2 separate regions of the Homo sapiens genome follow, and region 1 is linked to region 2. The links come from fine-mapping of genetic effects on gene expression. A gene starts in region 2. The other region holds a variant in brackets. All regions are shown on one strand. Distances are between the middles of the regions. Region 1 overlaps EPS8L2 (EPS8 signaling adaptor L2). Region 2 holds the start of GATD1-DT (GATD1 divergent transcript).

Region 1 (2,732 bases), 56 kb after region 2:
TATATCATGCAGTTGAAATGAAAACCGCTTCAAATCTGGAAAAGTATTTTAAACCACTTGAACAATGCACTTGCCACCACCTGGTGGCAGCGTACCCATATGTTTTTAGAGACTGTAGGTTCTGAAGGGTTTCACTTTCATGCTCCCTCACTTTGAGGGGGGCTTACCTGTGAGTATGTGGGGAGCTGACTGGTGGTAGGGCATCCCCCGGGGGGGTGGGCTCTGAAGTGGGGCTGTGCTTCTGGGAGTTTCTTATGGACTGTCGGCTCACTGGACTCACCTGTGGGGAAGGTGGGCGACCTGAGTTAGACATGGGGCGGGGCTGGGTCCCAGGACGAGGGGGCATATGACAGGGGCTGGGCTAATGTCCTGTGACTGATGCATCACTGAGGGTGATGGAGCCTGATGCCCGGTGATGCCAGCATGGGTTGCCTCTCCTGGCAGGGGCTAGGGGCAGCTGAGCTGTGGCTGAAGGGGCGGTGGGTGGAGGTGGGCTGGGGAGGGGAGCTCTGGGGAGGGGTGGGTGTCGGGGCCGGGGAGGGGAGCTCTGGGGAGGGGTGGGTGTCGGGGCTGGGGAGGGGAGCACTGGGGAGGGGTGGGTGTCAGGGCTGGGGGGGGAGCTCTGGGGAGGGGTGGGTGTCAGGGCTGGGGGGGAGCTCTGGTGAGGAGTGGGTGTTGGGGCTGGGGTAGGGATGGGGGCTGCTGGTGCTCTCACCTCCTCGATGGGGGCAGACGCCAGCCCCTCCACCTCCCAGGGGGCCTCCTGCAGCACATCCACAGGAGGCTCCCAGCCGCTGTGGAACTTGGGCACGTAGAGGGGCACCTGTGGCTCCCGCGGCCACTCGGAACTGGGGTGAGAGGTCCTGAAGTCAGCCCTGCCTCTCCAGAACTGGCCCACCAGGACCCCCTTGCTGGCCCCCATGCAGCGCTGGCCCCCCATGAAGCCCCGGCACTGCTCTGCCCTGCCCTACCGGGGCCGCATCCAGCTCTCTCCCAGTGACTCCCACAGCGACATCTCCTTAGGGACCAGGTGGCCGCGCAGGAAGTCCACGGCATCTCGGGAGAGCAGTGGGCAGGAGACGGAGCGTGCGATGTCTGGGCCACTGCAGGTGTTGACGATCTGGGGCACAGTGAGGTTCAGAGGGGACTGAGGCCCACAGACCCTGGCCCAGCACCCCCGTAGCTCCACAGGCTGGCCCTCGGGAAGGGACTTTGGACCCCAGGGAGAGTGGCCACACAGCGTGAACCGGGCTGCCCAAGGCGGGCACCTGCTGCCCCAACCCCGACCCCGGGGAGATGCTGCAGAGGCCTCTGGGCCCCCACCCTG[C/T]GCGCCCCTGCCGCCCGGCCCCAGGCACCAGGTCCAGAGGCCCGAAGAGGAAGTGCACGAGCTCCGCGGCGCTGGGGTTCTGGATGTGCTTCTGCAGCTTTGCCTGGGGGTGGGAACAAGTGAGCAGGTGCCGGGGCGGGGCGGGGCCTCCACCCTCCCCTCAGCACAGACAGTGGGGCAGGGCTGGGGCCACCGGACCCACCAGCAAGTTAATCGCCAGCTTGATTTTCTGGAAGCAGTCGATGAACTCGCCCTCAGAGGGGGGCCGTGCCCGCAGTGTGAGGACGCCCTCTGGCATGGGAGGCACCGCGTGAGCCAGGCTGGCCCTGATCTCCCCGGCCCCTGCGCCTTCTGTCCCACGCAGCCCATCTGTGTGGGCTGGACCTTCCTCCACCTCCATGAGTAGCCCCCATGGATGTCCCTGGCCCCGTCCCCGTCCCTGTCCCCTGCACCTGCTGGCCCCGTCCCCTGCACCTGCCGGCCCCGTCCCTGTCCCCTGCACCTGCTGGCGCCTTCTTGCCCTTCTTCTTCCCCTTTTTCCGCTGGTTCAGCTGCTTGAAAGCCTCGGCTGCCTTCTGCAGCCGGGCCACAAACCACTCGATGTCGTCCAGGGCGCAGTTGAGGATTTGCTGGGGTCAGAGGGGGTCAGGGGTCAGCCCCTGACACTCCCCACCGCCCCGCCTTGCTGCAGGGACAGCCCCACAGATGATGGGAGGAGCTGGGCCCCACACCTTCGGAGGGGCAGCCACAGGCTGGGGACTGGCCGGAGGGACAGCAAGGACCAGTGTCCACTGCTGGGGGCGGGGAAGAGAGGGGCCACCTGCCGGGCCCGGGCACCCACCGTCTCCTTCTCTATCTTCTGAGCCAGCACGGCCCGCGGCTCCTCCTGCGACTCCCGACGGCGGAAACCTGATGGGGGACACGGCGGCTGCTCACCGAGCCCCCCACAACGAGCCCTGTGGAGCCCCCTCCAGCCCCTCGGCCCACCTGGCTCGCTGAGTGGCACCTGCGGGCCCACGCGATTCTTGGCCTCCGGGGAATCCCCGCCGCGGTGCTGGAAGGGGATGGGCGCCGGGCCCTGGGGAGGAGGCAGGATGGACTGCCGCTGCCGAATCTTCTCCTGGTGTCCCCTGGAGGGCGAGGGGGTCCTGCTCAGCCCCGCCGGGAACGCACCTGACCCTCCCTCCCTGCCGGGCTCCTCCCCTCCCCTGCCGGCTCCTCCCCTCCCCTGCCGGGCTCCTCCCCTCCCCGCCCCCTGCGACCCCGCTCCGCCCGCTGCCCTACTTCAGGGTCTGCGGCCGCATCTTCTTGCCCAGCCGGCAGTCGGCCAACGCGCTCTCGATGTCCTCGTGCACCAGCTCTGCCTGGGAAAGCGGGCGTCAGGCGGCCAGGAGGGCGGGGCGCG
Region 2 (2,951 bases):
CAAGATCCTGTGCAGATCCAGAAAGCTCTCCAAGCGGCTAGGCCCAGCCTGTGGTGTGACCGCAGGCCTGCGAGGCTTCAGACACCTCCATCCACTAACACCCCCACCCACCTAACACTGGACACTCACTCAGCTCCGTCCTCTGCTCCCTAACCCAACTCTCGGCCTTGCCTGTACCAGGAGCTCCCAGCTCCCACTTCCCCTGTGGTGGGAGGGCTCTGTGTCAGGTGAGGCAGGGTGCACTGCTTGTCTGACGGGGGTCAGGGACCCTTCTCCAGGCTGGGCCAGGGGGAGCCAGAGGCCAGTGGCTTTTTTTTTTTTTTGAGAAGGAGTCTCAATCTGTCGCCCAGGCTGGAGTGCAGTGGCGCAATCTTGGTTCATTGCAACCTCTGCCCCCGCTGGGTTCACGTGATTCTCCCGCCTCAGCCTCCCAAGTAGCTTGGATGACAGGTGCTGCCACTGCTAATTTTTGTATTTTTCTTAGTAGAGACGGGGTTTCACCATCTTGGCCAGGCTGGTCTTGAACTCCTGACCTCGTGATCCACCCGCCTGGGCCTCCCAAAGTGTTGGGATAACAAGCGTGAGCCACCGCGCCCGGCGGAGGCCAGTGGTTTTCAGGGGGTGTGACCCACAGAATTCCTCACCTTGGCTGTTCCCAACCATGACGGTTCCCCTGGTTGGAGCAGAGGCTTGGTGGGACCTTCATACTGGCAGCAGGGGGCCAGGGACCTGGGCGGCCCGCTCGCCTGCTGGCTCTGTCTCAAGCGCCCTTTTGGCCTCAAAGGGTGCCTGCCTGTCTGCCAACCACTCCACGTGGTCTCACCCCCTCCAACTACAGTCTAAGGAAAAACTGCTTCAGGCCAGGCGCGGTGGCTCACGCCTGTAGTCCTCGCACTTTGGGAGGCCAAGGCAGGCAGATCGCTTTAGATCAGGAGTTCGAGACCAGCTTGGACAACACAGTGAGACCCCCTCTCTACCCAAAACACAAAAAAATTAGCTGGGCGTGGTGGAGTGTGCACCTGGGGTCCCGGTTGCTCAACAGGCTGAGGTGGGAGGATCGCTTGAACACGGTAGGCAGACGCTGTAGTGAGCCGAGATCACGCCACTGCACTCCAGAGGCCCTGTCTCAAAAAAAAAAAAAAAAAAAGAAAAACTGCTTCAATTCTCCTCACCAAAGCCAGCACGCCCGAGGTGTCCCCATCTCAGGAAGTGACACTCCGTCCTCCCAGGAGCTCAGCCCGACGCCCCACAACCCTGCAGGCCTCCCCGCGACGCCCCCGTCCTGGGCCGGCGGAGCCCACCCCGCCTCCTGGACCCCGCCGTCCCCCTCCTAGTCTCCGGGGACACCCGGAGCTTCTGACCCCGCAGCCCCCCGGTCTCCCCTGCTCCTCGGGTGTGGCCACCGGAACACCACGGGCACCTTCGCGCCCCGACACCGCCGCCTGGCTCTGCTGATGCCCGCGCCCCCACCCCAGGCCAAGAGCCCTACCCCGCGCGCGCTCAGACTGCGCATGCGGCCGGGGAGGACCCTCGCGACCCTACCTATTGGCCCCTGCCAGGCTCGGATGCCGAACCCGCCGGGGCCAAAGCAGGCGCGACCTGCGACCGCCCGGGCGCGCGGAGCGGCGGGCAGCCCAGCCGACCCGGACCGGGTACGAACGCGCAGGCGCCCAGTCCCACCCGGCTCCGCCCCCGGCCGCCAGGGCACGTGACCCGCGAACTCCCGGGCGCGCCCAGACGCCGCGCACGCGCAGACCCAGCGCCGAGCCCGAGCCATGGCGTCCGAGCGGCTCCCTAACAGGCCCGCCTGTCTGCTCGTGGCCAGCGGCGCCGCCGAAGGTGAGGCCCGGCGGCCGGGGCCAGTGTCCGAAGAGCGTCCGCGAGGGGGCTGCCCGGGGCGGGAGGTTCGGGACACGGTGGGCGCGCGTCACGTGGCGCCGGAGGCCGAGGCCGCTGGGGGCGCCGGGCAGGGGCCGGGGGAGGGCGGAGCGGGGTCGGTGTCGGGATGGAGCTCGGGGCGGGGACGGGGGCGGGGGTGGGGTCGCGGGTTGGTGGGATGGAGCTCGGGGCGGGGTCGGGGGGTCGTGATGGATCCCGGCGCCGCGTCGCTCCTCCGAGTCTCGTCTGCCCGGCGAGGCGGCCCGGGCCCGACGTTTCTAGCGGAGGGAGCCGCGTGCCTGGGCCTGGTCTCTGAGGCCGCTGCGCTGCGAGAGGGGAGCCCGGGTGTGGGGAGGGGCCATTCCGGGAGTTGACCCAGCTCTGAGGTCGGGCGGCCGCGGGGACCCTGACCTTCTGAGCCACCGGCTTCTGAGGAGACCCGGAGCCCCCTCCTGGAGAAGGCGCCCCGCGGCCCCCGTCCTGGGGCAAGGGTACCAGGGCAGTACTGGCCTGGGGCTCACGCGGGTCGGAGCGCAGCGGGGTGCGTCCCCTGGCGCTGAGCCTGCAGGGTCTCAGGGCAGCAGGGGAGGGATGAGCAGCGGAGCACGAGGGTGCCTGGCCTTGTTCTGAGCCTTTTGGAGAGGGAAGTGAGCAGCCCAAGGTCACCGCACCACGGAGAGGTGGGGGCCGGGGTTGCGACCCAGGGGTCTGCCTCTTGAAGTCTGTAGCTCCTCAAGTGTGGACGGGGAGATGGGGCTGTGGGGTTGTGGCGTCACGATGTGCTGAGCTCCAGGGGTCCTGAGTGATGCCCCCAGACTGCGGGTGGGAGGAGCCTCGAGTGGGGTTCAGTCCTGGGGGGGTGGGTTGGGGCTTGTTTCCAGAGCAGGTAGGCGTGAGGAGGTCCGGCATGTTGAGGACGTGGGGTCTTAGCGCCAGCAGGCTGGGGGCAGCACTTCAGGAGGCCGGAAGGGCGGGCAGCTGGGGGAACAGAGCCTGCGGCAGTCTACTGGGCACTTTGTTTTTCCTCGATAAGTGGACATTTTACAGTGAATATGTATTAACTTATATAAGAA

Evidence for each region. PIP is the estimated chance that this variant, and not a neighbour inherited with it, causes the effect. A credible set is the group of variants that fine-mapping cannot tell apart.
Region 1: its variant is the best candidate, but not a certain one, in a credible set for the expression of GATD1-DT in whole blood (TOPMed, PIP 0.55).

What each region holds. Positions count from the first base shown.
Region 1 is chr11:720,789-723,520 of GRCh38, reverse strand. It overlaps EPS8L2 (EPS8 signaling adaptor L2), which reads right to left. Exons shown (of 21, transcript NM_022772.4): 7 at 2,612-2,691; 8 at 2,315-2,457; 9 at 2,169-2,236; 10 at 1,830-1,956; 11 at 1,530-1,618; 12 at 1,356-1,430; 13 at 972-1,120; 14 at 716-848; 15 at 168-280. Among named protein-coding and RNA genes, the nearest start is that of EPS8L2, 16 kb to the right of the region's middle. RefSeq lists silencers at 1,303-1,352, 2,283-2,432, 2,463-2,512, 2,543-2,732. The variant C/T (reference allele first, on the strand shown) is at 1,328.
Region 2 is chr11:776,287-779,237 of GRCh38, reverse strand. GATD1-DT (GATD1 divergent transcript) reads right to left here and starts at 1,660. Exons shown (of 2, transcript NR_126343.1): 1 at 1,543-1,660. It overlaps GATD1 (glutamine amidotransferase class 1 domain containing 1), which reads left to right and starts at 1,751. Exons shown (of 8, transcript NM_182612.4): 1 at 1,751-1,839. The coding sequence starts at 1,776. LOC124900301 reads right to left here and starts at 1,660. Exons shown (of 2, transcript XM_047427954.1): 1 at 1,543-1,660; 2 at 1-1,121. RefSeq lists silencers at 1,251-1,350, 1,401-2,110, 2,121-2,330.